Linked DNA regions of Homo sapiens. The protein of the gene in region 3 purifies or fractionates together with the protein of the main gene of each other region. This does not show direct contact. Each region holds a gene or a part of one and is shown on either strand. Other genes may lie near its edges.

Region 1 (3,655 bases), on a different chromosome or scaffold from region 3:
ACTGCCACTACCAGACTCTTTCCTTCTTCATCTTTTACCTGGATTACTGTAATCGCCTCCTCGCTGGTCTCTGTTCTTAAAGTTTCACCATCCTCATATGGCTACCCTACCACTTATACAGTTCTCACAATACTCATTCTGATAAGCAAATCTTACATCATTCTTCTGAGCTAAAGTTTTCAATGGCTCCTATTTGCAAAGAGGATAAAATCTAATCTCCATGGTATAGCACACAAAGCCTGCTGTGACCTAGCCCACTGTCTATCACTGTCCAATCCCATTGACCACCAGTATCTGATAACATTTTATATACCAAATGATAGAAAGCTGCTTATAATTTCTTGAACACTACTGGCTCTCTCATACTTTTGTATATGTAAAATGGCCATTTCCTCTGCCTGATTCATGTAAGGAAAGCAAATGCCTATTCATGCTTAACCTCTCAACTGCAGTCTTCTTTATATAATCTCATTCTACAAAGCAGTCCCTCATTCCTCTACAATACTTTGTACATTTTCTACCAATAAACTTATTGCATTTTAGTGCAGCAGTTTGCTCTCATCTCTCTCTCCTCAGTGTTTATCTTCTTAAAGACAGAAAATGTCTTTTCAGTTTATTTTTCAATCCTCAGTACTAAGTGTAGTCAGCTGGCACATAGGTAGGCATGCCAATAATTATCTGCTTTTTCAACAAATAAGTTATGAAGGTGATATATAAATACATGAAAAAGAATAGCTTCTCCTAAAGTAATTGTGGAGAATGAATAGCTACTTTAGGAATGATAGGGAGCTAATGATAATCATAGTGGCCCACACATCATATGTTATGTACCCAGCTTGTGCTTCATACATTATCACAAAAACAGTATGGGATGGATGTTATAATGAAACTCATTTTGTAGATGAATAAATAAGGCACAAAATGTTAAAAAGTTTGCTCAAGGTCACAGTAACTGACAAAGACAAGACAAAGAGAGATCTATACTAACCACTATTCTACTCTGCTTTTCAATACAGGCAAATGTTAAATCATCACTGCTATTTCTAGGGCTTTGCTATCCCTTACTGCTATTTAACTGCTTTCCTCTTTCTCCACTTTCACTTTTCTCTGTGTTTTTAGGCTCTTCTTTCTTCATTTTCTTTCTTCCTTTCACTTTCTTTTCCTTTAATTCTCTATTCAATTTCCATAATGAACATAACCTATACTATACGATCAAGTATTTCCTCCTAAAATACCTTCTCTTTTCTTTTTTTAATCAAGGAAAACAAAGAAGAAATAGTTAGAAAAGAGGTGAGTTAGGACTGCATACATTACCTCCTGAAAGAAGTTGCAAGAAACAGAGAAAACTAAGAACAGACCTTTGAATATGGCAAAAGAAAAACCTGTGATAACTGAGAGAGCAATATTTTAGCTAAATTATGGAAGAAAAAGCTGTAAGGAATACTAATGCTTAGTAAGAAAATGAAGCCAATTGCTGAAGACCATTATTTGAAAAACTTAACATAAAACACATAAAAAACTAAGATCGCAGCTGGAAAGGATAGTTGAATCAAATGAAGGTGCGGGGGGGCTCGTGATTTGCTTTTTGTTTGTTTAAAGAAATCTGAGCATAAATGGCCAGGCATGGTTGCACATGCCTGTAATCCCAGCACTTTGGGAGACTGCAGCAGGTAGATCACTTGAGCTCATGAGTTCAAGACCAGCCTGGCCAACATGGCAAAACCCCGTCTCTACTGAAAATACAAAAAAAAAAAAAAAAAATGAGCCAGGCGTGGCAGCACATGCCTGTAGTCCCAGCTATTCTGGTGGCTGAGGCAAGAGAATCACCTGAACCCAGGAGGCAGAGGTTGCAGTGAGACAAGATCATGTCTCTGCACTCCAGCCTGGGTGACAGAACGAGACTCTGTCTCAAAAAAAAAAAAAAAAAAAAAATCTGTGCATAAGTAACTGTAAAAAGTTAAACTAGTTTCTCTACTGCAGAAAACAAAACTGTTAGTTCTATGACCGCAAGAACTTTGTCTGTCTTGTTCACTGCTATCACACCCAAGGCTTGGCACATAGTAGATACTCAACTACTATAAATACAATTATTCTGATAAAAAAAAAACTATAAATTGTATATAGTCCAAGCTGGGTGCGGTGGCTCACGCATGTAATCCCAGCACTTTGGGAAGCTGAGGGATGTGGATCATTTGAGGTCAGGAGTTTGAGACCAGCCTGGCCAACATGGTGAAACCCCATCTCTACTAAAAATACAAAAAAAATTACCTGGGCATGGTGGCGCACACCTGTAATCTCAGCTACTCAGGAGGCTGAGGCAGGAGAATTGTATGAACCCGGGAAGGGGAGGTTGCAGTGAGCCGAGATGTGCCACTGCGCTCCAGCCTGGGCAACAGAGCAAAACTCCGTCTCAAAAAAAAAAAAATTGTATACTCCATTTTTAAGTTACAGTTTAATTTTATATCTTCTACCAACTGAATGAGTGCTGGATTAAACATTCATTCATTCATTCATTCATTCATTCATTCAAATATTTGTAGAGTACGTACTATTTTCCAGGTACTATACTCTAGGCAATGGGAATGTAGCAATGGACAAAACAAAACCATCTTTGCTCTAATGAGAGGCACTGAACACACATCACACACACACACACAAAAAAAAGATGCTAAGAGTGATATGTCCTAAAATGAATACAAAAGCATAATAATGATATTTAGTGATAATAGGAAGTGGTAGTAATATTTTATATAGGATGGTCATGGAAGGTCTCTCTGTTTAGATGATGTTCGAATGAGAAAGTGAGCAAGGCAAGTAAGCAAACAGTACTACTACAGACCTATGCAACAGTAAATCCAAAGACCTGAGGAGGGAGAGTGCTTAGTGTGTATGAGGAAGATCAAGGAGGCTGCCAAGGCTGAAGTAAAGGAAGCAAAGGAAAGCATAACAGAACCAGCTATAATAGATCCATATTTCATCTACAACAATTGTAACAGTACCTAATCATTAATGGAGTCTTTCATACATGGATAGTTTTTAAACTAATATGTGAAGGGGCAGAAATTTAGAAAAATTTCAAATTCATTACCTTGCAAAAATTCTCCGTTTTGGTTATTTTCCCTTATATAACCAAAACTTCTGATTGTTCCAATAATGCAAACAAAACCCTGAAGTACAAGGTACTATTCTATGAGTTAAAAATGCTACACATTACAAGAACTTTAATATCCATGAGTCTCACGTATGATACAACACCAAATTCCTCACGGAAAGCAGTGTCCTGCTCATATGTGGATATCTTTTGGACAAGTCTGCTGGGATATCGTTTGGACAAGACATCGAGTGGAGCACTAGTGTTCAATTCTAAGAGTTAGAAGTTAAGAGGAATACACATTAGTGTAATTCTAATTTTCTAATCATGTCCCTTTCTTACCTGACAATAACTTAGTATGGTATAAAAGAATTCAACTGTTCCCATATATGCCACAGTACCTATCACAGGTTAATATGCATAATAAACATCTGATACCATTAAGTCAAGATTTTTTTTTGGCTGGGCACAGTGGTTCACGCCTGTAATCCCAGCACTTTGGGAGGCCAAGCACTTTAGGAGGCTGAAGCAGGCAGATTACCTGAGGTCAGAAGTTCGAGACCA
Region 2 (3,655 bases), on a different chromosome or scaffold from region 3:
TCTCAACCAGTCGGGCCTAATAAAAAATGCTGCTGAAAAGCCTAGGACTAATGTTTTTACTCTGCCTAATTAACCTTTATCAAAAATTTTTAACCGACAGAATCATGGCCATTTCGCAACTACCCAAAAACATCTACAAATGGTGTTGATCCTACAGTCAATCTAAGACCAAAAAACTCTCCACCCCCGCATCAGCAGGAAGTAGCTAGAAAGAACATGTCCCCTCTTGTCCTTTTATAACCATAGGGTCTGGAATGATAGAGCAGGAGTACTGTCATCTCAGACAAACACCGCCACTTTAAATTCCAGCTCCCTTTCTAGCCTCATGCATTTCAAGGAAATCACTTCTCTTCTAACTACAAGCAGCCAGAAAGAGCAGACAGTAAAACACGGATAAGACAGCTGGGACACAAAGGGAGGTGGGGGGAAAGTATCTTGGGTAACTGCCAAACTTCACCCTCATACGATGGGCCCCAGTAAAACAGTGGGCCTTAATAATAAGGAACAAGCACATTCCCTTTCCTTCAGGGGCACTAAGACAGGAAAGCTAAAAGCAGACTCTTGGCTGGGCGCGGTGGCTCATGCCTGTAATCCCAGCACTTTGGGAGGCCGAGGCGGGCGGATCACGAGGTAAGGAGATCAAGACCATCCTGGCTAACACGGTGAAACCCCGTCTCTACTAAAACTACAAAAAATTAGCCAGGCGTGGTGGCGCATGCCTGTAGTCCCATCTACTCAGGAGGCTGAGGCAGGAAAATCGCTTGAACCTGGGAAGCAGAGGTTGCAGTGAGCCGAGATGGCGCCACTGCACTCCGGCCTAGCGACAGAGCGAGACTCTGTCTCAATAAATAAGTAAAAACAGACTCAGGGACTATACCTGCAGCTGCAGGAAAAATGTATGAAAACAGGCACACAACTCTCCCTCCCAGATAAGCACAACAAAGAGACACAGAAGCAGTCCAAGCCTCTGATAAACTCTCCCATCCTGAATCCTTAAAAACTCAGTCTGTAAGAGAGTGTGCCTCTGACCTAACTTGGCCAGAAGGCTCCTTTCAGGTTGATTTTCTCTAAAATAAATGTCTTAACTGGCAAGCCAGCTTTTGTATTTCTTTCCTCTTTCTTTAATTCTTACAGTTCTCACAGTAAGGATTGGAGAAAAATCCCCTTCTGGTTTTGGCAGGAGGCAAGGAAAGCAGTCATTTTTTTCTCAACATATCTACCCTCATAGAAACTATTATACCAGAGCCTAAGTGAATGGACACCCAGGGCCTAACTAACCTAAGTGATGAGGAAAAACCCAAATCCAGCCCCTCTAGCCTTTCTCATCACCTAAAAGGGGTAGGACTGAGAAACACTTGTGAAGGTCACAGCCCAGGGGTGCAGGCTCACTGAAACACTAAGACCTAATTGTAGGACTGTAAAACACTTCCCCCCACCAAAACACCTTGCTACTACATCCACAGGGCTCCAGTATAGTAACAAGGGGATTACGGATAAGAGAACTGCAAGCCAGAGCCTATTTAAGGAGTTTCTACAAAAACCCAAAGACAACAGGGTAGACAAAAACAAGAAGATGAAGAGAGAAAATTATATCCTCTGATACCCACAGCTATAGCAAATAGTAAACACATTCTAACTCCTAGACAGGTAAATATCAAACCTCACACTAAAAGCCTATCTACCTCAGTACCTTTTACCCAATACATTATATCTGATTTTCTGCAAAACAATTACAAGATATATAAAAGACAAAAACACAGTTTGCAAAGATGAAACAAGCACCTAAACCACAATCAGATATGGAAGCAATGTTGGAATTTTCAGATGGAAAATTTAAAACAATGATAATTAAAATGCTAAGAGCTCTAATGGAAAAATGTGGAGAACATATAAGAACAAATTGGTCATGTAAGCAGAGAGATGGAAATTAAGAAAAAAATCAAAAAAAGTCTAGAAATAAAAACCCTGTGATAAATGCAAAGAATGTCTTTAATAGGTTTATCAATAGACTGGATACAGTTGAGGAAATAATCAATGAGATGGATGAAATATCAACAAACACTTCCCAAACTGAAATGCAAAGGGAAATATAGAATAAAAAAGACAAAACAGAATATCCAAGAATGGTGGGACAATTGCCATAGGTGTAAATCCTTGTAATAGGGATATCAGATGGAATAAAAAGAAAGAAAGGAATAGTAAAAATGTTTGAAGTGATAATGACTGATAATTTTCCAAAATTAAAGACAGATACCAAACCAAGATCCAAGCAGCTCAGAGGAAACCAAATAGGATAAAGATCACCCCCCACCCCCCAAAAAATCTATACTTAGGCATATCATATTCAAACTGCAAAAAATAAAAGACACAGAGATAATCTTCAGTGAAGCCAGGGAGAGGCAGGGCAGGACACCTTACCTATAGAGGGAGAGAGATGAGGATTACATCAAACGTCTCTTCATAAACCATGCAATCAGGAATAGAATAGAAAGAATTATTTAAAGAACTGAAAACATTCCATCAACTTAGAACTAACTAGATTCCATCTGTATGCAGTAAAATTGTCCTTCAAAAGTGGAGGAGAAAGACTTCTCAAACAAAAATTGAAGGAATTTGTCACCAGTAAACTGCCTTACAAGATATGTTAAAAGAAGTAATTCAGAAAAAAAGGAAAATTAAACAAGTCAGAAACTCAACATACAAAAGAGTATTAGAAATAAATGTGAAATAATTTTTTTTCTTATTCTTAATCTGAGAGATAACAATTTGTTCAAAATAATAATTGCAACAATGTATTCAGTGATTGTAGCTTATGGATAAGTGAAATGAATGATAGCAGTAATAATAAGGCATGGGAGGGAGGAATCAAGAATACTCTGCAATAAGGCCCTTACACTACCCATAAAGTTGTATAGTGTTATTCAAAAGCAGACTTAAATTAGATTTAAGTGTATATTGCAAACTGTAGGTCAACCACTAAAAAAGCAACAACAAAAAAGTAAAACTGATATGCTAAGAGAGAAAAGAAAATGGAATCATATAAAATGCTCAGTTAAGATCAGAAAAGGCAGAAAAAAGTGTGGAAGAAAAAAGAAACAAAGGGCAAATAGAAAACAGTAATAAATATGGTAAATATTAATCCAACTATATCAAAAAATCACTTCAAATATCAATGGTGTAAATATACCAATTAAAACATGTGACTATCTAGAGTGAATAAAGAATCGTGACCTAACTATATGTTGTCTACAACAAACCCATTTCAACATAAAAACCAGATAGGTTACAAATAAAGGGATGGAGAAAGATATACCGTGCTACCACTAATCAAAAGAAATATGGAGTAGTTCTATTAACTTCAGATAAAGCAGACTTCAGAGAAAGGAAAATTATTAGGAATAAAGAGAAGCACTACATAATGGTAAAGGAGTCAATTATCCCAGCAGACATAATACTCCTTAATATGTATGTGCCTAACAACAGTGCTAAAATGTGTAAAGCAAAAACTGACAGAATTTTAAGGAGAAATAGATGAATCCACTATTATTACAGTTGGAGACATCAACACCTCTCTGTCAGTCCCCACTAACGTTTTTTTTGGGGGGGCGGAGTTTCACTCTTGTTGCCCAGGCTGGAGTGCAGTGGCACGATCTCG
Region 3 (3,655 bases):
CCCACCACCACGCCTGACTATTTTTTTGTATTTTTACTAGAGACGGGGTTTCACTATGTTGGCCAGGCTGGTCTCGAACTCCTAACCTTGTGATCCATCTGCCTCAGCCTCCCAAAGTGCTGGGAGTACAACCATGAGCCACCGCGCCTGGCCCAAGAAGCACACTCTCATGCATAATCTGTCAAAAATTTATAAATCAGATGGGCACAGTGGCTCATGCCTGTAATCCCAGCACTTTGGGAGGCCTTTGCAGTGAGCCTACATTGCACCATTGTACTCCAGCATGGGTAGTAGAGCAAGACTGTCTCAAAAAAAAAAAAGGAAAAGAAATCACTAGGATTTCTGTTCACCAATAATGTTCTACCCGAGGACGAAACCAAGAAGGCAGTCCCATTTATGATAGCTACAAAAAAATAAAACACCTAGGAATATATTTAACCAAGAAGGTGAAAGAAATCTACAAGGAAAACTACAAAACACTGATGAAAGAAACTATAGATGAAACAAAAAAATGGAAAAACACCCCATGCACGTAGGCTGAAAGAATTAATGTGGTTAAAATGACCATTGTGCCCAAAGCAATCTGCAGGTTCAATGCAATTTCTATCAACATCATTTTTTCACAGAATTAGAAAAAACAATTCTAAAGTTCATATGGAACTAAAAATGAGCCCGAATAGCCAAAAATATCCCAAGTAAAAAGAACAAAGCTGGTGTTATCACATTTTCTGACTTCAAAATATACTACAAGGCTATAGTAGCCAAAACAGCATAATACTCATAGTGTCTATAAAAACAGACACATAGGGCCAGGTGCGGTGCCTCATGCCTGTAATCCCAGCACTTTGGGAGGCCAAGACAGGCGGATCATGAGGTCAGGAGTTCAAGACCAGCTTTACCAACATGGTGAAACTCCGTCTCTACTAAAAATACAAAAATTAGCCAGGTGTGGTGGCGTGCGCCTGTAATCCTAGCTACTCAGGAGTCTGAGGCAGGACAATCGCTTGAACCCGGGGGGCGGAGGTTGCAATGAACTGAGATTGCACAACTGCACTCCAGCCTGGGCAACAGAGCAAGACTCTACCTCAATAAATAAATAAATAGACACATAGATCCATGGAACAGCATACATAACCCAGAAATAAACCCACATGCTTAAAGCCAACTGATTTTTGACAAAGTCGACAACATTTACTGGGGAAAGGATACCCTTTTCAGTAAAAGGTGCTGGGAAAATTGGATTGCCATATGCAGAAGAATGAAACTGGATCCCTGTATCTCACCATATAAAAAAATCAATTTGGCCAGACACGGTGGCTCACACCTATAATCCCAGCACTTTGGGAGGCCTAGGCGGGCGGATCAACTGAGGTCGAGAGTTTGAGGCCAGCCTGACCAACATGGAGAAACCCTGTCTCTACTAAACACACAAAAAATTCGCGGGGCATGGTGGCGCATGCCTGTAATCCCAGCTACTTGGGAGGATAAGGTAGGAGAATCGCTTGAACCCAGGAGGCGGAGGCTGCAGTGAGCCGAGATCGCGCCATTGCACTCCAGCCTGGACAACAAAAGCGAAACTCCATCTTAAAAAAAAAAGAAAGAAAAAAATAAATTCAAGATGGATTAAAGACTTGAATGTAAGGATGAAACTCTAAAAATACTGAAGAAAACCTAGGGGAAACTCTTCTAGACATTGATCTAGGCAAAGAATTCATGACTGAGACCTCAAAAGCACGGGCAACAAAAACAAAAATAGGCAAATGGAACTTCATTAAACTAAAAAGCTTCTGCATAGCAAAAGAAATGATCAACAGAGTGAACGGATAACCTGAGGAATGGAAGAAAATATCTGCAAACTACATATCCAACAGGGGACTAATATCCAGAATTTGTAAGCAACTCAAACAACTCAACAACAAAAAACAAATAATCCCATTAACAAATGGGCTAAGGACATGAGTAGGCATTTTTCAAAAGACAAACAAGCATATCAAAAATGTTCACCATCAGCCGGGCACAGTGGCTCACGCCTGTAATCCCAGCACTTTGGAAGGCTGAGGTGAGTGGATCAGCTGAGGTCCGGAGTTTGAGACAAGCCTGGCCAACATGGTGAAACCCCCGTCTCTGCTAAAAATACAAAAATTAGCCAGGCGTGGTGGCACACACCTGTAGTCCCAGCTACTGTGGAGGCTGATGCAGAACAATCCTTGAACCCAGGAGGTGGAGGTTGCAGTGAGCTGAGATCTTGCCATCGAACTCCAGCCTGGGTGACAGAACAAGACTTTGTCACAAAATTAAATAAATTAATTAATATTATGAATCCTGGATTTATTTATTTATTTATTTATTTATTTATTTATTTATTTATTTATTTATTTTTGAGCCAGAGTTTTGCTGTTGTCGCCCAGGCTGGAGTACAATGGGCAATCTCGGCTCACTCCTGACCTCAGGTGATCCACCCACTTCAGCCTCCCAAAGTGGTAGGATTACAGGCATAAGCCACCACGCCCAGCCTGATTCCTAAACTTAATCCAATAACAGATTTCTTCTCAAACATTGGCAGTATGCTGTAATCATTTTAAATTCATAACCAGAAAATGAGTTGAACAAAAAATTCAAGACTCTAGGGAAACAAAAATAGTTTGTATATTGCTAGAATTGTCTATTAAGAGTCATGTTTTCATGCCTTTTAATCTTCCCTGAAAATTTCTGTGTACTGCCATGAGTAAAATTTTTAAAAAATGTTCAACATCACCAATCATCAGAGAAATACAAATTAAAAACCACAATGAGATATCATCTTACACACAACAGAATGGCTATTAAAAAGACAAAAAAAATCACAGGATGTTGGTGAGGAAGCTGAGAAAAGGGAACTCTTCTTATACACTGTTGGTGGGAATGTAAATCAGTGCACCTTCTATGGAAAACAGTATGGAGATTTCTCACAGAACTAAAAATAGAACTACCGGAAGATGCAGCAATCCCACTACTGTGCATCTACCCAAAGGAAAAGAAATCATTACATCAAAAAGACACCTGCACTCATATGTTTATCACGGCACTATTCATAAAAGCAAAGATATGAAATCAACCTAAGTGCCCATCAATGGAGCACTAAATAAACAAAATATGGCATATATACAAAATGGAATACTATTCAGCCATAAAAAAGAATGAAATTATGTCTTTTGCAGCAACATGGATAGAACTGGGGGCCATTATCTTAAGTGAAATCACTCAGGCACAGAAAAACAAATATTGCCTGTTCTCCCTTATAAGTTGGTGGTAAATAATGCGTACATATGGAAGCAGAGTGTGGAGTGATGGGCAATGGAGACTTGGAGGGTTGGGGATGTAGAGGGAAGGGGATGGACTACAGGAGGTTGCTTGCTGGGTACAATGTGTCTTGTGCCAGTGATGGATGCACTGAAGGCCCTGACTTCACCCCAATACAATATATCAATGTAGCAAAACTGCACTTGTACCCCCATGAATATATGCCAAAACAAAATCATAACTGGCTGGGGCACAGGGGGCTCATGCCTGTAATCCCAGCACTTTGAGAGGCCCAGGTGGCTGGATTCTGTGAGCTGAGGAGTTCAAGACCAGTGTGGGCAACATGGCAAAACCCCATGTCTTCAAAAAATACAAA

What was found.
Region 1: the proteins of SUGCT (region 3) and MRPL1 purify together in Homo sapiens (affinity purification with mass spectrometry; one large-scale study listed by BioGRID and IntAct). This does not show direct contact.
Region 2: the proteins of SUGCT (region 3) and ALDH1L1 purify together in Homo sapiens (co-immunoprecipitation; one large-scale study listed by IntAct). This does not show direct contact.

Annotation. Positions count from the first base shown.
Region 1 is NC_000004.12:77,897,267-77,900,921, reverse strand, and holds part of MRPL1 (large ribosomal subunit protein uL1m precursor), read right to left. Parts: intron 1-3,655.
Region 2 is NC_000003.12:126,170,454-126,174,108, forward strand, and holds part of ALDH1L1 (cytosolic 10-formyltetrahydrofolate dehydrogenase), read right to left. Parts: intron 1-3,655. UniProt on the Homo sapiens protein: Cytosolic 10-formyltetrahydrofolate dehydrogenase that catalyzes the NADP(+)-dependent conversion of 10-formyltetrahydrofolate to tetrahydrofolate and carbon dioxide.
Region 3 is NC_000007.14:40,137,851-40,141,505, reverse strand, and holds part of SUGCT (succinyl-CoA:glutarate CoA-transferase), read right to left. Parts: intron 1-3,655. UniProt on the Homo sapiens protein: Coenzyme A (CoA) transferase that reversibly catalyzes the transfer of a CoA moiety from a dicarboxyl-CoA to a dicarboxylate in a metabolite recycling process.